2 separate regions of the Homo sapiens genome follow, and region 2 is linked to region 1. Evidence: fine-mapped expression QTL. Tissue or cell type: whole blood. Region 1 holds a variant in brackets; the other region holds the start of a gene. All regions are shown on one strand. Distances are between the middles of the regions.

Region 1 (10,158 bases):
GGTTCTAATACCATCCCCAGTGCATGGGTGATAAAACTGGCGTAGTTGTTCCCTGGGGCCTTCCTGACCTCTCCAATAGATAGTACTCACTTCCTCTCCTGAAACTCTATTTGGCACTTTCTGTGCTTCTCTTATGAGACACAGCAATTCTCCCATGTGCACAAAATAATGGAGACACCATCCTGTCCCCTCTGCTGTACTGTAAGTTCCTTAAAGACAGGGATATCTGATTCCAATGGTACTCTGCAAAGCAGGCTATCCAGGTGCTGTTGACAGAAGGAGGTTTGAGGACCACTGTCTTATTAAAGCAGCCCATTGCTGGTAATGAACCAAGCCTATGAAATGAATGGGTGGCTTATCAATAACCATTATTATTAGATGTCATTTGAGTACAGATAATTGTGTTTCCAGTAGACAAAGAACTACCCCAACCTCAGCTCTGCCAGTCTCTCAACCTGTCTCCCACCTCTCCCTCCTCCCTTCCCCCTCCCCTCATTCAGCTCCAGGAACATTGGCACTTTCCACTGCTCCTTAACTGTGCCACATCTTCTGCCTAGAATGTTCTTACTTTAGATTTGCATGGCTCAGTCCCTCTTTTTTGTTTTGGAGACAGTCTTGATCTGTCGCCTAGGCTGGAGTGCAGTGGTGCCACCTCAGCTCACTGCAACCTCTGCCTCCCAGGCTCAAGCAATTCTCATGCCTCAGCCTCCCAAGTAGCTGGGATTACAGGCATGTGTCACCACACTTGGCTAATTTTTGTATTTTTCAGTAGAGATGGGGTTTCTCCATGTTGGGCAGGCTTGTCTTGAACTCTTGGCCTCAACTGATCCATCCACCTTGGCCTCCCAAAATGCTGGGATGACAGGTGTGAGCCACAGCGCCCGGTCCCAATCCCTCTTTTATTCACATCTTTTCCCACATATCCCCTCCACAGAGCCGTTATCTGACCATCCCAACTCGACAACAGCACCTCACCCCATCACTGTCTATGGCATCACTGTGCTTCATCAATATTTTCAAAGCCCTGATCACTGACATCATGCTATACATACTGTGCATTTGCTGTCTGTTTCTTCCCGCTTAGAATGCACACATCAAGAGGTTATAGAGGGCCAGATGCAGTGTCTCATGCCTGTAATCTCAGCACTTTGGGAGCCCAAGGCAGGAGGATCGCTTGAGGCCAAGAGTTCAAGACTAGCCTGGACAAAATAGCAAGGCCCCATCTCTACTCGATAGATAGATAGATAGATAGATAGATAGATAGATAGATAGATAGATAGATAGATAAATAGACAGATACACACACACACACACACACACACACACACACATTTATATATATATATATATATATATATAATTAGCCGGGGATGGTGGCATGTGCCTGTAGTCCCAGCAGCTCAAGAGACTGAGGGGGGAGGATCATGGCGCCACTGCACTCTAGGCAACAGAGCGAGGCTGAGACCCTGTCTCTAATGAAAAAGAAGTATGGTGTCTTTTGAGGAAAACACAGGAGGCTCCCATGTTGCTTGCGCCTTCTGCACGAAATGCTGGCAGGGCAGGCTTGCCTCTTGTTGAGAGTAGAAGTGAGAGCCCAGCTGACATTCTAGGTTCCTTCCAAGATCCAAAGTCTCAGAAAAATGCAATTGTAGAGATACAAAAAAAGTTCAGACATCATCTCATGCAAGACTTCTTCTTAAGCTGGGATCCTTGAGTCCCCAAAGATTTCTAAACTTCCTAAAGTTGTATGTGAAATGTCATCGACAGACATATGCACCATTTTCTGTGGAAAGAATCCACAGCTTTCATTACAGTCTCAAAGGAGCTTTATTTCTCAAAAAGTTAAAATCCTCTTGGCATCATCCTTCATTATAGATGAAGAAGCAACTTCTGGAAGGTCAAATAGCTGGTTAGTGGCAGAGTTTGAAGCAGAATTCACATGTGCTGATTTCTAAGCGGTCTCTTGCCTCCACCCCGCTCCCTCACAATGTTCGCTTATTGAAAGGAAGCATCCTTCCCTGGCACTGCCAGACTGGCATCCTGGACCACTGGGCTCCCAGAGTAGCGACCTCATTGTGTGTCTGCCTGAGCCTCGGGCAAGACCCGCCATGCATGACTTTCCCCTTCCTAACAATTTAATTATTCACGAACTTGCGTGTGGTGAGAACATCAGACAGGGATGACGGCGCTAATGTGCTCTGAGCCTCCTTCAAATGGCATTTCATACTAGAGCAGTGCACCCGCGGCATCTTCACAGACCCTCCCTCACCAGATGCCCTCAGCAGATAAAGAACTCATTTTCCTTTCCCTGCTGCTAATGGCTCCAATTTTCTTGTGATTTTCTGTAATGGTAAATGCCAACAAAACATCACCCCACCACATGTTCCTACTGGCTATTCTTTCAACATCATGAATTCCAAACCAGCTCTGCTGGAATGAAAAAGAATGAAAAAATAATATTCACAAGTCATTTGGGAGGAGTGCAGGGAGGGAGGGAAGGCAAAGAAATGAAGGTCATGGGCATATTTTAACCTCAATCAGAAGCAAGTGATTTGTCCTCTATTCTTAAGAAATTTGCTATATAGGCATACCTAGGAGATACTGTGGATTTGGTTCCAGACTGTGCAATAAAGCAAATATTGCAGTAAAGCCAATCACACAAATTTTTCGGTTCCCCTGTGCCTATAAAAGTTATGTTTACACTACAGTCAATTAAGTGTGTAATAGCATTATGTCTAAAAAATGTACAGACCTTAATTTGAAAATATTTTATTGCTAAAAAAATGCATATGATCATCTGAGCCTTCAAGGACTCTTAATTTTTTGGCTGGTGAAGGGTCTTGCTTTGATATTGATAGCAGCTCATGGATCAGGGTGGCAGTTGCTGAAGACTGGGGCAGCTGTGGCAATTTCTTAAAATAAGACAGCAATTAAGTTTGCCAGATCAATTGATACTTCCTTTCATGAAATATTTCTCTATAGCATGTGATGCTATTTGATAGCATTTCATAGTATTTCACCCACAGTATAACTTCTTTCAAATTTGGAGTCAATCCTCTCAAACCTTTCCACTGCTTTGTCAACAAGTTTATGGATTATTCTAAATCCTTGGTTGTCAACAATGTTCACAGCATCTTCACCAAGATAGAGTCCATCTCAAGAAACCACTTTCTTTGCTCATTCATAAAAAGTAACTCTTCTCTGCTCAAGTTTTATCAAGAGATTGCAGCAATTCTCACATCTTCAGGCTCCACTTCTAATTCTAGTGCTCTTGCTATTTCCACAACATCTGCAGGGACATCCTTCACTGAAGTTTTGAACCCCTCAAAGTCATCCATGAGAATTGGAATCAATTTCTTCCACACTCCTACTAATATTGATATTTTGACCTCCTCCCATGAAACATCAATATTCTTAGTGGCATTTAGAATGGGGAATCCTTTCCAGAAGGTTTTTAATGTACTACACCTAGAACCATCAGCGTAATCACTATTTATGGCAGCCACCATTTCATGAAATGTATTCTTTTAAATAATCAGACTTGAAAGTCAAAATTATCCCTTGATCCATGGGCTGCAGTATTCATGTTGTGTCAGCAGGCATGAAAACATTAATCTCCTTGTCCATCTCCATCTAAGCTCTTGGGTGACCTGGTGCATTGTCAATGGGCAGTAATATTTTGAATCAAGGAATCTTCTTTTTCTCAGCTGTAGGTCTCAACAGTAGGCTTAAAATAGTCAGTAAACCATGCTGTCAACAGATGTACTGTCATCCAGACTTTGCTGTTCCATTTATAGAGCACAGGCAGAGTAGATTTAGCATAATTGTTAAGGGCCCTCAGATTTTTCAGAATGGTGAAAGAGCACTGGTTTCAATTTAAAGTCACCAGCTGCATTAGCCCCTAACAAGAGGGTCAGCCTATCCTTTGATGCCCGTCACTGACTTCTCCTCTCTAGCTATGAAAGTACTAGACAGCATCTTCTTACAATAGAAGGCTATTTCATCTACACTTAAAATATGTTGTTAGTGTAGCCACTTTCATCAATATCTTCACTAGATCTTCTGGATAACTTGCCACAGCTTCTATATCAGCACTTGCTGCCTCACCTTGCACTTCTATGCTATGGCAATGGCTTCTTTTATTAAACTTCTTTCATCAAACTTCATGAACCATTGCTTTATTGATCGACCATGAATCTTATGGTCGATCAATAAAGTGATGTGCTATATAGAAGGAGGTATGTCTGCATTCATAGAAAGCTCTGCAAAGTACCCTGAGTTGCCACATAAACTTCTTCAGTGATGCCACGGTATTGCAAGGAACAGAGACTCACTCAAATTGCCTCAGAAAAGGGATGTTTTAGACCTGGACTTGGAAAGCTGCTAAGAACAGGGGCCACTCTAGGGCTGTAGGGTCTCTCCACATCTGCTCCCCTCTCTCTATCAATCAGCTTTTTCAGTTTCCTTGTGGTTTCCATTCACAACATTGGCTTCCACATGGCTTCAGGTTGCCACCAACTCAACTCCCAAACGACATCCTTTTAGCTTTTGCCCCTGTGGCAAAACATATTGGTATTTCCTCATTCAAATTCCCAAGAGAAGGAACCTGATTGAGTACTTACTTCTTTGCGTCAAACCATATGTCATTGTCCAGGCTACGGAATGGCCTCTAGGTAGTGTGTCCATCCAGGGACAATCAGTGATGGCCACAGGAATCTTAGATGGTGTAAAACGAGGCTACCTAGGCCTTCCCTGGGTCTTCTATCCAGGCTGTGGGCAGGCAGGTACTGTAACTATTTGTCATGTAGGAACTAGCCCAGGTTTTTCACAGAATACTGGAGCAAACTTGTACTAGTTTGGAAGGGCCAACTGTTACATTTTCAGGAATTTTCAGGAATTCTGTGAGCTATCTCTTAATCCACTGCTGGTCTGAAATTGGCCACTGTGGGAGTATTTACACCACAGATATTGGTGAATGCTACAAACTCAAGTTTTTTCCTCCCACTCTACAGAGCTAGTTTACCAGCACACTATTGCAGCATGAATGGTTAAAGAGGAAGAAAAAAAATCAAGGTAAACAAGTCTCCCCATAATCTGACAAAATCTATATCATTTCCCTCTTTTCCACTTTACCCACCCTTTGCTTCAGCAAGAATGGACAACTTCCTCATTATCCACTTGCCACAAATAACTGCGTTAGGGCCAGGGCTCACGCTGTGCCAGGTCCCCAGCCTTCCCAAACCTGATGTCCATCTCTATAAAGTTCAACTACTTCCCTGAAGCTTCCTCAACTCCCTCAATTAGAATAATCTCTGCTTCTCTAAACTCCAATAACCCCAACTGGACTTTTTTTGCAACTTTTTTCATGTTCAGCCTTCCTTTCCCTGGAGTTATTTATGGCTTTATACTTGGGGTCTTTTAATTCATTATAAACTTCCCACAAACAGAATCTATGTCCACTTCTCTTAAGTGTTAGGAGAAGTATCAATTAAGTGTGCAATGGCATTATCTCTGAGTATTCCAAGTGCTAAGTGCATACCTCCTACTCAGATACCTGGTGAATCGGTGAAGATGAACACAGCATTTATTTGCACAAGTCTTCAGTAACCCATGTCTCTCTCCCCTTCCCACACCTACAATTCTAGACCTGCAAACTCATGAGTTCACCAGCTGATTTGGGCCCTGACAACTGAATCAGCAACAGCAGGATTTTCAAGGCCAGAAGGCTGCTAAAGGCATGTATCTGATGTGCATGTGAATTACTTTCACTAGATTCAAATCCCTGTAAAAGAGGAGGGAAAAATCTAGGATTAAACTACAGAGATTGAACTTTGATCTGGCAACAGTGGACTCGTATTTCAAATAACACGCAACTCCCTGTGTCTCAGTCAGCTTAGGCTGCCATAACAAAATACCACACACCATGTGGCTTAAATAACAGAAATGTGTTTTCTAACAGCTCTGGGGGCTGGAAGTCCAAGATCAAGTTACCATCATGGTCAGTTTCCGGTGAGGGCTCTCTTCCCGGCTTATAGGTGGCCACCCTCTCATTGTATCCTCACATAGCATAGAGAGAGAAAGAGAAAGACAGAAAGAGAGAGACAGAGGGAGAGAGAGTGAGAGACAGCAAGAGC[G/A]AGAGAGAGGGAGAGCGCTCTCCACATAAAAGAAGAGACCAGGCACAGGGGCTGACACCTGTAATCCAAGCATTTTGGGAGGCTGAGGTGGGAGGATTGCTTGAGGCCAGGAGTTCAAGACCAACCTGGCCAACATAATGAGACCCTGTCTGTACTTTAATTAACTTTTTAATAAAAGACATTTTTAAAAATAATTTTTTTTAAAAAAAGCACTAATCCCCTCATGAGGGCCCCACCATGAACTCATCTAAACCTAATTATCTCCCAGGACCCATCTCCAAATACCATCACACTAGGGGCTGAGGCTTCAACATAGGAATTTGTGAGGGACATAATTCAGTCCATAGCACTCTGTTAAAATCAATCTTCCTTTAAATACTTTGGGAAAGACGACTGAGAGATTTGGGGAAATCTGAGAAGTGGAAACCAGATGAAAAAGATCACAAGTTCAGCCTCAGGGAGAGAAAATTAGTTCTTCCTATTAACGTATGACTTAGCCAGTCTGAAGAGTATATGAAAGCCGCCAAGAAGTTAGAAGAAAGACTACTGGATTACCATCGGCATGTGAAGAAAATTTGGCCATAAAGTAATGGGGTTCTTTGCACCAAACCTTTGTAGACAAAGTTTCCTCAGTAAGTCTTCAGGCAGAAAGTTCAATGGCATGTCAACTTTAGATCCTAGCAGTTTTTAGTCCATTAATGTGGCCTAACAGGCATCGCTTAATTCATTTGCAGAAATTTTCAACAACTGAAAATTCATCACACTCTGAGAATCTAGAAGGTAATAGAAAATATTATCTCTGTTTTGCAGATGGAAAAACTAAGCTAAAGAGAGTCAAGCCACTTGGTCACTCCTGTAACAGAGACTGAAATACAAACCCAACTTCCTAATCCTGGGATCAATACTTCTGTTAGTTTCACTCCATGCACTATCCCCCAAAAACCTAAATGCCCCTAAAATTTTAAAAAATTTCTTGTATTAAAAAGTTAAAGTACAGACAGGGTCTCATTATGTTGTATCGACTATGAAGTCGATAATTCCTGAAGTTACTTCTATGAAGTCTATAATTCATCCAAACACATGCTATTAAAAAAATTGGCAAAGAATTCTCAGAACTGAGGCAGATAAATGAACATGGTATAAGTAACTATTTCTGCAAGAAAAACAAACAAACCCTCTAATCTTCCAAAAGTATAAAATCCTGTCACTCAAGGCTGCTGATAAAAGCAAGAAGATAAAGACATCTAAGACGAAAGAACACGTTTCATTTTAGATATTTCTATTTCCTCCATCTGTATTTGTTGAGGAGCAATTTTAGGAAGGCAGGATCACTGAGATGCTGTACTTTTCCTAAGGTTTTACAACTGTTAGCTAATGCCTCCACAACATGGGATTTTGTACCTCAAGTCCTAAAAGACATTAAACCAAAAGTAAAGAGAGGCGAAAAAAGGCAAATAAAAGAAAAAATCACTATGTCCATATGTCCTCCCTGACAGATTCCAATCTGATCTTTAAAATTGAGTCTTTTGGGCCACAAATGAGAGGCTCTCTCTTTTCCTGGTCTAAAATCTATCCCCATGCCACCACATTGTATCAGAATCGAAATGTCACCAGAGGAGAGTGATACAGGGTTTGCTTCACGGAGTGAGCTATTTGTTTTTGAAATAAGTCATGTTGTCAGAATCGGAACTGAGCAAGTATACCCATTTCTCATTCAGGAAAGAAAATATAAGACGGATTCAAAATTTCCAAGGCTCTTGGCTTAGATCACAGCTCAAACATGAAAAGAATTCTTCTGTAGCCTCAAACTATTTCTGAATTTGTGAGCTTACCAGTGGACCTCCCTGAAGCTATCAAACAATTTGAAAACAATCTTGAGCAGCAAATCTAATTCCGCCAAAGATAAACTGGATGCCACCCTCTGCCAAGCCATGTAAGGATCTTCTGAAAAATGACTCCAGTATATTCTATATGCAAGCAACTCTTTAATTCAAGAAGACATCAGCCTTCTTTGAGGCAGGCTTTCAGGCACATAAGATAGTCATTCAGGATTCTGTCATCAGTGGATTCCTATCCTCATATTCTATGATGATCTGGGTGTTAAGACCAGAAATGGCTGGCCAAGAGCTACTGGTCACACATCCATGAATTCATGACACTGGAGATGTATTTGGTAGCACTCTTATCAAGCTAAAGAAAAGGAAAGCAGCCATTATGAATCCCTGCCTACTGCTTCTATGTGTGTTTCTATAGACTCTTTATCTTACACAGTAGTCTCCTAGTGTCCCCTGTGTCACCTTCTGTGGCTTCAGGTACTCAAGGTCCAAAAATATTAAATAAAAAAATTCAAAAACAAACTGCCGGGGTATTGCAGTGCTGGTGTTCAAGTCACCCTTATTTTACTTAATCATGGCCCCAAAGTGCAAGAGTGGTAATACTGGCATATTGTGTTGATTGTTCTTTTTTATTATTAGTTATTGTTGATAACCTCTTACTGTGCCTAATTTAGAAATTCAGCTTTATCATAAATATATTTGTATAGAAGCAGCATTGTATATACAAGCTTGGGTACTATCCGTGGTTTCAAGCATGCCTTGAGGATAAGGCGGGACTACTGTGTGATCCTCACCACCATCCAGCCCAGCAAGACCCTGGAACATAAAAGGTGCTCAGTGAACATGGGCTTCCTCAGAACAGTGAGGTGGGTTAGCCACAGTAAGGGGATTCACACGCAAGGTGGCGTGACTCAAAACATTTCCGTTAGTTTGTTGTGTGTGAATTCATTCATTCATCCATTCCTCTTAGGATTCCAGGCTGTTCTAAGCCAGTGAGTGAGTACCACCCCAAAAGCACAGGATCAGAAGAAAGTAACAGTCCCATCACCCAGAGATCCCTGGGAATTCAAATATTTTCCAGGGGTGGGTGCGGTGGCTCACACCTGTAATGCCAACAGTTTGGGAGGCCGAGGCAGGTGGATCGCTTGAGGACAGGAGTTCGAGACCAGCCTGGCCAACATGGCAAAACCCTATCTCTTCTAAAAATACAAAAATTAGCTGGGGGTGGTGGTGCATGCCTGTAGTCACAGCTACTTGGGGAGGCTGAGGCAGGAGAATCGCGTGAACCCGGGAGGCAGAGATTGCAGTGAGCCACGATTGTGCCACTGCGCTCCAGCCTGGGTGACAGAGCGAGACTCTGTCTCAAAGAGAAGAAAAAAATATATATATATATGTTTTTTTCCCAGGAAGATTCTTGCAAGATAAGGCCATTTCTGGCCATAAGGCTCTAAAATCAAAAATATACTCAAATCTATTCTGAACTTTGAGGACAGGTTCTGAGCCAACCAGTATTAACTACTTGGTAATCAGCCCCACTCTGCAAACAAAGGCACCTGATTGCCAGGCTAGGGTACTGTCAGGGAGGCTGCGACTGAGCAAACTTTCAGATAGCTATCACGTACTGCCCACTGTACCAGGAAGTGTGCTAATCTTATTCCTTCCGTCTTACTTGACTTAGAGCCTTATATGACTTCACAAGGTAAAGAGTAATAAAAGTTAGGAGACTTGGACTTCAAAAATCCCAGCCACAAGCAACTACTCTCCAAAACCTCACTCTGCAGCCAATGGCTCTTGCATCCACCTTGACGATTCTGATTTCAAGCATGGCTTGGCTGCCCGGCTCCACAGCCTGCAGGACTAAAGGTAGTAATCAGCGTTCTAAAGTTAGCTTAACCTGTTGCCCTAAACAAGTCAACATCTGTATCTCAATCTTCTTCAGTAACTCAAACATATTTTTTAAAAGGCATGTAATGTTAGTGATACTGTTAGACTATAGAAATAATTGTATATAAATGTTCTCTTTCACTATTGAAATACTTTGTTTTATGTAATGCTACTAGTGTTTTGTATGTCATGGGACTAAATATTACCTTATCAAAATAATACAATTACATCATACTTTATTGTCTTCAAACAGAGAGAGGAGACGAAGCCTGAGGCTAATGGTTTATTCACCATGAAATAGCCAT
Region 2 (10,158 bases), 22 kb after region 1:
ATTTTGCCACTGCACTCTATCCTGGGTTACAGAACGAGACCCTGTCTCAGAAGAAAAGAAAAAAAAATCAGCCAGGCTCATGGCTCACCCCTGTAATCCTAGCAACATGGGAGGCTTAAGGCTGAAGGAGCACACGAGGCCAAGAGTTCCAGATCAGCCTGGACAATATAGAAAGACTCCATCTTTAAAATGATTATTTTAAAAGTTTAATATTTTAAAACTTAAAAAATCAAAAAACTTAAGCCAGGCATGGTGGTGCACACCTGCAGTTCCAGCAACTTGGAAGGCTGAGATGGCAGGTTGCAGTGAGCTATGATCATACTGTACTCTAGTCTGGGCTGTGGAGTGAGGCCCTGTCTCAAAAAAAAAAAAAAAAAAAAGAAAGAAAGAAAGAAAAGAAAAGAAAAAAAAGCTTTGCAAAGAATCCATAGTCAACCTAATCTGGGGCTATTCTTTACATAATGGCTTGTGTGGAAGCAAACTTAAAAATAAATGTTTTTATAATCAGACTATTCTGGATATTTATCACTAATGTTTGCTTAAAAGTGTTTTATATCTTCATATGCTCAAACAGAAAAAAGAGAGAGAAAAGAGAAACAAAGAAAGAAAAAAGATGAGAAAAAAGCACATTTTCCACGTCTCCAGGGAAGAACACTTAGCCACTGAGCACTTAACACTGGGGTACTAGAGCACCATAAGTTTAAAGAATCAAATAGATCAGTCACTTCACTTGATAACACACAGAAACCATTGAGATCCACTTAATGCTAGAGCCTGAGCCAACACTGCTGTTTAAGAACTAAGAAAGCCCAGACAGGCTGCATTTCAGTCCCTGTAGAAACATCTAGGATATGTCAGGAACAGCCAAGAGTGGCACCAAGATAAAATATGACAGTAGCGACTGCCAGCTTCAGCAGGCACAATTCATACTGAGTCCAAAGCTCTATCCTCACACAGACTAGCTCTGCAGAGGCACACTCCTCTTAGAGCACAACAGGCAAAGTCATAGCTAGCTCTGAGTCATCCAAATGCTTCAACATGACTATCCTACGGTTCCTTCATCCAGAAACCAAATCTGACCAGTACACACTTAGAGAAGTCCAGAAAGCCAATTTTCCCAACTATATTTAAGAAAGTCTGTCTGCTCCATGCTTCCTTGTTTTCTCAGCAGAATATCTCATTCTCTTACTTGCAGAGATAAAGACAGAGTGGAGGCTCTCCCTTCCTCCATCTAACCAAACAAAATTCAACTCATATTGGGGTGAATGAGATGTTATGCCTAATGGGAAGAAAAAGAAGAGGAAAAAACTGCATTCAATTACCAGACAAGCTAGGTTAGTGTACTTTAGAACGGCACCCCAACATCAAGGACAAGCAAACTGAATGCACTAATACCTGGTACACCTGTTGAGTGCTAGGAATACAAAACCACAATGGTCTGATTCACTGAACCCAAGGATGGCACAGTCCAGGAACTGCGAGGAAGAAGCAAGGAGGTTTGGGACAGTCTGACAAATAGCAAATTTGAAGAAGGGAGTAGGAATGGATTTGAGCCCTCAAGGAAAGGTGAGCTGTCTGAGGCAGAGTTGGGAGGGCACTCCTGGCAGGGACAGGCACAATGGGAGCAAAGTCCCAAAGGAGGGACTCTGCAGGGTATGTTGCACAACAGTGGGAAGGGCAGTTGGTCTGCATTGGAGAGCTAGTGAAAGAAGCCTCGAGAGATAATGCTGAAGATAGGCTGAACCAGATTATAGGAACCTTGGAACGGAGGCTCAGACTTTATCCTGTTGACCACGAGAGACTTCCAAGCAGGGAGGTGACATAAACATAAGCAAGGAGGTGACAAAAACAATGAGTTTTAGCAATAAGCAATGGAGATTTCTCTCTTCAGTTAATTTATCCCAACTGTGGGTCCTTTTGTCAAACCCAGACAAACCAGAATCTATGTCTGGTGAAATAAGTGTTCAGAATTATATCCTGGAGCAGTTTCCCTAACACCTAGGCCCTGGAAATGCAATCCAAATATTTTACACACACACACACACACACACACACACACACAATTTCCACCCATATTTCCATATACATATATATATACACACACACACATATACGCATATATACATATATATGTATATACATATATACATATATGTGTGTGTATACGTGTGTGTGTGTGTGTATATATATATATACGTATATATATGTATATATAGTTTTTTTTTTGAGATCGGGTCTCACAGTATCACCCAGGCTGGAGTGCAGTGTCGTGATGGGGGCTCGGTGCACCCTCAACCTCCCAGGCTCAAGCTATCCTCCCACCTCAGCCTCCTCAGTAGCTAGAACCACAGGCACAGGCGACCATGCCCGGCTAAATTTTTTTCGTATTTATTGTAAAGACCCGTTTGCCATGTTGCTATGCTAGTTTTGAACTCCTGGGCTCAAGCAATCCTCCTGCCTCTGCCACCCAAATTGTTGGGATTACAGACGTGAGCCATCGCACCTGGCCCAAATATTTTTCTTGACTGATAAGTGACACAGTAAACTGACTCCAGAACATAAAAACAAAATATTAAAAACAATTATACTTGCTCCTAGGACTATGGCAATAAAAACCACATTTTTGAAACATGTTTGCATTAATTACCCTCAACTGAATAGTTTTGAAAAGAGCTTTTAATCCTGATAAAATTAGAGTTGATAACATTTCTGTAGTGATTGGGCATTGTAAATATGCTTTCATCTAGGGGCCAGGTGAGGTGGCTCATGACTGTAATCCCAACACTTTGGGAGGCCGAGGCAGGCGGATCACCTGAGGTCAGGAGTTTGAGACCAGCCTGGCCCAGATGGCGAAACCTGGTTTCTACTAAAAATACAAAAATTAGTCAGGTGTAGTGATGCAAGCCCGTAATCCCAGCTACTCGGGGAGGGGGGCTGAGACAGGAGAATTGCTGGAACCTAGAGGTGGAGCTTGCAGTGAGCCGAGATTGCGCCACTGCACTCCGGCCTGGGCGACAGAGTGAGACTCCCTCGTCAGTCCGTCTCAAAAACAAACAAACCAAAAAAAAAAAAAAAAAGAGCCCTGAGGCAGAAGCAACATCTCTACCCATTTCTGAGATGCAGCTAAGGGAGAGACTAAGATTCTAAAAGCAACTTAAGAGCAAAAAAGAAAATGTCTTTTGAATTGAGGGAAAACAAAAAATAATAAATATATAAAGGATCACAACCTAAGAATAATATAGTAAATATGAGACTGTTAAAAAACAAAACAAACAACAACAAAAAACCCTGACTCCTGGCTACAGAGTTGAAAAGCCCCTAGACACGTTGAGTAGCTCTTAATTGAGACTGCACTTCATTAACCAGTGAGGTGAGGAAAAACAGGACCTCAGTAAGGGAGTAAAGTCAAAGACTAAATTACAAACAGGCCAAATGAATGGATCTGAGAGGAAGTGATAAAATTCGCAACACACTCAGCCGTGTTTATTGTAGGGAATCACCCCAGGTCTAACTGCCATTGTAATCACCCCGTTCAGGGCAGAAGTCTTCCCACAGGCCCTCAATAACTTCAATCCTTGATAAAAAGCCAAAGGAGCCTGACTTTCCACCTGGGTCAAAATCCCCGCACATCTATTGTTTCGGAGCCAAAGCACCACCACCAGCAACCCCTGCGCACAACCCGGGGCTCTCCAGCACCGCTGTTCTGAATGCCAAGTGCCCAGCACGGGGTCTGGCACAGTTTCCTTAATAAAATGTCCTCTTCTCGTCTCCAGGATGAAACTCAGGATCCGGAAGGCAGCCTTACACCCTCTCCAGACAGGCTCCGTTAGGGGATGAGTGCGCACAAACAGCCCCAGGGGCCAGCCACCCCCTTCCCGTGCCACAACTTCCTGTCCCTTCCATCACTTCCACGCCACGACTCTAGTTTCCATCCAGCTCACAACTGTCATCAAGATCCCAGTCTCTGGAGGAAAGGGGGCAGGGCGGCTTTCCACCCTCAACTCCTCACTTAAGGGGCGTCTGAGAAGAACCTACGAAAGCGGGGGGCAGAAAGCACTGGGACAATGAGCACCAGTCCATGTGCCGACCCGGGCTGGTCACCTACTCCCAGGTGAAACCCACGCTGGGCGCACCGGGGCGAGCCACAGAGCTGCGGCCCCAAAAGAGCAGCAGGCGCGCCCCCCTCGCGTTGACATTTCCCTGGTGTGAAGTGCCGGAGATTGGGATGCAAGAGCGGGATTACGGTCCCGAAGCTCAGCTGCACTTGGAAGCACTCGGAGTCCCCAAACCCTGGGCGACTTCCCCATCGGCGCTCCCTGGAGAGGACTCCTACCGTCCCCGGCTCCCAGAGCTGCGCAGCCGGGCCGAGCCCCCGGCCAGGGTCCTCCGCCGGGCTCTGCGCAAACCTGGCAGGGCCGCTGTCCGCGAACTTGGCCGCGTGGGTCGGGCCGGGACAAGGTGGGGCGCGCACTCACCAACCCCGTACTTCTGCCTCTTGGTCGGGATCCAGCGGGCCATGGCGGCGACCTCGCCCCGCGGCGGCGGCGACTAAGGCTGCTACAGCTCCTCGGGCTCCGGCCGCCGCCGCCCCGCGCTCCTGCGTGCCCCAGACGCTTCCGCCATGTTCCGCCAAACTTCGCTGGACTCCGCGGGCCGCCTCCTCGCCGCGCCGCCCGCGCCCGTGCCCGTGCCCGCGCCGCCCGCGGTCACCTGCTGGGCCGGGCTGCAGCGCAGCAGTGCGCGCCCCTCCTGGCGCCGCCCCAGTCCCTCCCGCCGGCCGCACCCTCCGCCCGCCGGGGCCGCCTCCGAGCCGCGGGCGCCCGGCCTCTCCCGCCCGCGCCGCTCTCTGCGCTCTGCCGGGCGGGGGCCGACTGCGGCTCCGCCTCGCGCGCTTCCCTGGAGCGGCTTCCTGGGCCGGCGGGACTTTGACGCTGGCGGCACTTTGCCTTTCTCCCGCCCTCCCCACCCGGCTGATACCCCGGAGGCTGGGTCCCGGGGGTCCGGCTCCCGACAGAGGGCTGCGCTGGAGGAGCCGGGCACGCCCAGGCCGGGCGGCCGGTGGGCGAGGGATGCGGGCTGCGCTCCCACGGCGCGCGCCGGACACTTGGGGAGCGGAAACGGATCAGCGAGAGCGGCTTCTTGCTCGGGGCACCTCCGGTGCCTGGCACTAAGCGGGCGCGCAATAAATATTTGTTGAATGAATGAGCAGTTGACTTCTGCCTTCACCCCCTGGAGCTTGAACCCGCGCCGCGAGCGGGAGAAGCCGGACTCAGGGCAGACTGAATCTCCCGGGGCCACCGCTTAGAGCCTGGAAAGCAGAACTTTTATCACCGGAGAGCTGGTGCAAGGGAGGTGGGCTCCTCAGAAGTATCAGACCGTTTGCTAGGGGATCCTCTGCAGGGAAATTGTTTAGAAAGCCCTAATTTGGAAGTCCTGTATCCCCAAACTCCGGGGACCCCCCAACCTTAAGCTGAAGAAACTTAGACCCTCATGCCCAGACCTCCCTTTCCCAACCAGCCAGCAGCCCAGAGAGCATTCCCGTGGAGAAAGGGCCAAGGCGCATCCCCGTCTTTTCTCCGTCAACGACTGCCTTTTCTTGACGAAGATCCCAAAGGGGCTGCGCATTTGAACCGCCTTGGGCTCCAGGTGGCGCCCTCTCTGGAGCTCCCCTCTTGGAATTCATTTCTTCCTGGAGAGACTTGGAGAATGAAGATCCAGGGGTTTCTCCCTACCTTGTACCGAGAAGTAACATTGCAAGTAGAGTAAATGACCAGCTTAATTACGTTCACCTTCGAAGAAGATTCCTCTAGAGAGAAATTATATCCTCCTTGCAGCCTGTGAAGGTTTTCATGCGTTTTAGGAATATAAAAGAAAGGAAGACAAACATGTAGTAAAGATAGTAAAGACAGGTAGTTGGCCAGGCGTGGTGGCTCATGCCTGTAATCTCAGCACTTTGGGAGGCCGAGGCGGGTGGATCACCTGAGGTCACGAGTTCCAGACCAGCCTGGCCAACATGGTGAAACCCCTTCTCTACTAAAATACAAAAGTTAGCCAGACGTGCTGGTGTGCTCATGTAATCCCAGCTACCCAGGAGGCTGAGGCAGGAGAATCGCTGGAACCCGGGAGGCAGAGGCTATAAGTGAGCCGAGATCGCGCCACTGCACTCCAGCCTGGGCAACAGGGCAAAACTCCGTCTAAAAAAAAAAAAAAAAAAAAAAGACAGTAAAGATAGATAGGCAAACAAGGTAACAAGATAGTAAAGTTTCATTGGAGAATTAGTGCATTTTAACTTTGGTGGTTTTTTACCAAACGAGGTCTGAAATTTTTTTTAAGTCCTATTCACGGTGGGTAACTACTAGAGCTGGCTTTTTTTTTCTCCATCAACCAATAGGTATTTATTCACAATGTTTAACAATAATTTAAGAAATTCCTCTGTCACTTTAGACTTGACATCCAGAAAGAATTCCACCATCTTCCCTAAAATAATTTATCTTCCTCCATTAGTATATCATGATTCTAATTTCCCAGGTTAGGTAATTTCTTCTTCCTTCTTCACACACATATTAAATGCCTACACGTTAAGTGCCAGGCATCACTCTAAGAATGAGGGTGCAGCGGTGAATACAGTAGAATGTGTCCCTTCACAGAGCTTCTAGTCTAGACGGGGAGAGTAAGACAGTAAAGAAATGTACACCAAACGAGAGTAAACATTAGAGAAAAATCCAAAGCAGGGAGGATAGGGCGTGTAGGGTGCTGCTGTTTTTATGGAGTGGTCTGGGAATGCAGCTCTGCTAAGCTGAGGTTGAGGTGTAGACCTGAAGGAAGTGAAGATTCCGGGAGAAAGTATTCTGGAAAAGAGGAACAGCAAAGGCAAAGGACACCAAGCGTGTTTGGCAGGTTCCCAGGTCACCCAGAGATCCTAGGTAATGAGAGCTGAGTAACAGGTGAGAGGAAACTTGGTCTAAGAGGCAGAGGAATGCCAGATAGAGCAGAACCCTGGCAGGCATATGGACTTTATATATTACTACTACAAGCGAGGTTTGGAGGGCTTTGAGCCAACCTGGAACATATTGAACTTGCCTGCTGTGGTATGAATCCATTGTAAAGGGGCAAGGGAGGCCCACATGGATGGATGTTGGGGGCTATTTCAGTCATTCAGGCAAGACATGAAGGTAGTTGGGTCCAGGAGGATAAGGATGGAGGTGAAAAAGATGTTGGGTTCTTGACATACGTGAAAATAGAGCCTGGCCAGATGTGGTGGCTCACACCTGTAATCCCAGCATTTTGGGAGGCTGAGGTGGGAGGATTGCTTAAGGTCAGGAGTTCAAAATCAGCCTGGACAACATAGTGAGACCCTCCTCTACTATATATATATCCTGGGCATGGTGGCTGTGCCTGTGGCCCTATCTACTCAGGAGACTGAGGTGGGAGGATTGCTTGAGCCCAGGAGGTCGAGGCTAGCAGTGAGCTATGATTGCATCACAGCATGAAAAAGAACCAAGAGGAGGGCCACATGAACGGCAGGGGGATCTACTACTGTGAGGCTTCAATCTTTTTTGGAAAGTTTTCCCCCAGAAAGAGATATGCTTGTATTTTTCTTTTTTTTTTTAAAGAGCCCTACCCGTATCGTACACCCTTCAGGCCCCACACACCTTGGTTCTTGTCCCTGCATGTGAGATACAAGCTGGGTCAAGAATGACTCTAAAGCCAGCTAGGTCGCACATGCCTGTAGTCCCAGCTGCTAGGGAGGCTGAGGCAAGAGGATTGCTTGAGCCCAGGAGTTCCAGGCTGCAGTGAGCTATGCTGATCAGGTGTCTGCACTAAGTTCCGCATCAATATAGTGACATCCTGGGAGCAGGCGACCACCAGGTTGCCTAAGGAGGGGTGAACTGGTCCAGGTCAGAAATGGAGCGGGTCAATTATTTGGAAAGCCCTAATTTGGAAGTCCTATATCCCAAAACTTCGGTACTCCTCCTTAGCTGAAGAAATTCAGGCCCACATATCCAGGGGGAAATCTACCCCAAGACCTCCCTTTTCCAACCAGCCAGCAGCCCAGAGAGCATCCCTGTGTAGAAAGCAACTGGATGCATCCTTGTCTTTTCTCTGTCACTGACTGCATTATTGACAAAGATCCCGTAGCCGGGACTTCACATTTGAACTGCCTCAGGCTCCAGGTGGCACCCTCTCTTGAGCTCCCCTTCTGATCAATAATGGGATGGCACCTGTGAATTGGCACTGCATTTCAGCTTGGACAACATAGCAAGACCCTGTCTCTAAACAAATATTAATTCAAAACAAAAAGAGTGACTCTAAGGTTTGGGGCTTGAATAGCAAGGGAGTAGAGTTGCCATTGTCTTGGTCACCATTTATATCTATCTTGTCTTCACCCTTTCCTGTCCCAGTTGCTCTGTATCAAAGTTTTCCTTTCAATATTTCTTTAGGACCCACTTCTTCACGCCTTCCTCAGCAACTTCTCCATGTGGCCCCTTAGGAGCTAAAGCGCTCTGCACTGGATTATATGACTTGCCTGTTGTGGACTCAGGGCTTCTCAAAGTTACATGAATTCTCCGTGCTTAGGGAAATTGGATGACCTCTGTTCTCTGACCAAAGGTATATTTCAAATGTACCATACATCAGAATGTTAATGCTCTTATCCAGTGGAACTGGGTTTCTACCAAAGCGATTTCAACTGCCTCATCCCACTTTTGCATTGAAGTCTTCTTCTTCCAAAACTAGAGGTTTGAATTTGGGTGCCAGAGATTTCAAATTTGACAATGGCTTTAAGAGAGTTGGAGGAAAATGGAAAATTTTAATTACAGCTTTCAGTATGTTTATCATTTCCTTTTGAAAACTGAAATCCACTCACTTTGCTATATCAGATGGCTAAATCCTAGTGTGAATGTCCTTTTAAATCATAAAAGCAGAGCTTTTCAAAGTCTTTTATTAGAATGAGGCTTAAAATTAGACAGTTAACCAGACAGGCAGTTGGAATGACAGCGTGATGCCCAGAAATACCCTTTTTTTTTCCTCTGATATCTTTTCAGAAGAAACATTAAGCATATTCCACAGAGATCTTCAGACTCCAAAACCCACACAAATACAAACACACTTAAGCACGCACAGACACTCACAGGCTCTGCTTGAAGGAGCCATGGAGAAAGAAATGAGGGTAAGTGGCTTTGAGGGTTAGTTTGACATGAGTATTGTGACTAACCCTTACAATGCCTTAGAGAATAAATGGACAGGATGTGAAGAGAACTGGCAAGAGCCTCACCTCCCTGTTGATTACCAGGCTTGTTTTTGCCAAATCAGGCTGGTCTGATGGCTTCTCTATGAGATGCTGTGGAGTCGTTTAAAGTGTCTTTTTTCTCTCTCTCTCTAGATAAAAGAAGATTATTCTGTGATCCTATACGAGTCAGTGGCTAATGGAACTACCAAAAAAATGATAACAATGCAAATAATGTAATTGGTTCTAAGCAGTGCTTTGCAGGCTCCTAAGGATGGTTCTAAGTAAGCCAGGAGTAGGTGATACATTGTAATTCTGGGACCCATGAGCTTAGCAGGACAAAGGAAACCATGAATCACCCTAGTCCCAGAAGTACCTTTTCATAGGCCCCAGGGATTCCAACATCATTATTCACTCTCCACTCTGCAAGTGACTTAGGTCGTGAGCATCTCTGAGTCTGCACAGGCTCTGCCATGTGGCTGTGGGGGTCCGGCTTCTCTGATGGATGGGAAGATAATGCTCGGGGCTCCAATGCTATTATCTCCTCATCTCTGTCACAAGGAGATTTATACTTATGATTTACCCTTTTCATGAACATGGGAAAATTCTTTTTTCTAGTGTTGTTTCTGGAATGTTCTTTGCTGTGTCTAAATGAGCTGATTCCACTGTTGGGAGAGGTGGATGATGTGAGCAGTAAGAAGGCATTAGTTTCTTGAAAACTAGATCCATATTTAGGTGAGATGAAATCAAACTACCTGATTTTAAAAAAAACAAACTATGTTTATTTACCGTATGTCTTGATTCCTATATACATTGAAAAATTATATTCATAAAACTGTTTAAAATAAGAGATGATGGGCTGGACGCAGTGGCTCATGCCTGTAATCTCAGCACTTTGGGAGGCCAAGGCGGGCAGATCACTTGGGCCCAGG

Evidence for each region.
Region 2: DOCK5 starts here. The variant in region 1 is fine-mapped to the expression of DOCK5 in whole blood (TOPMed, PIP 0.93).

Annotation. Positions count from the first base shown.
Region 1 is chr8:25,201,210-25,211,367 of GRCh38, reverse strand. All of the region lies in intron 1 of DOCK5 (dedicator of cytokinesis 5), which reads right to left. Among named protein-coding and RNA genes, the nearest start is that of DOCK5, 22 kb to the right of the region's middle. The variant G/A (reference allele first, on the strand shown) is at 6,135.
Region 2 is chr8:25,179,269-25,189,426 of GRCh38, reverse strand. It overlaps DOCK5 (dedicator of cytokinesis 5), which reads right to left and starts at 4,738. Exons shown (of 52, transcript NM_024940.8): 1 at 4,476-4,738. The coding sequence starts at 4,518. LOC124901912 (a long non-coding RNA gene) reads left to right here and starts at 5,050. Exons shown (of 2, transcript XR_007060861.1): 1 at 5,050-8,610; 2 at 9,383-10,158. RefSeq lists silencers at 4,441-4,490, 4,661-4,830, 4,841-4,920.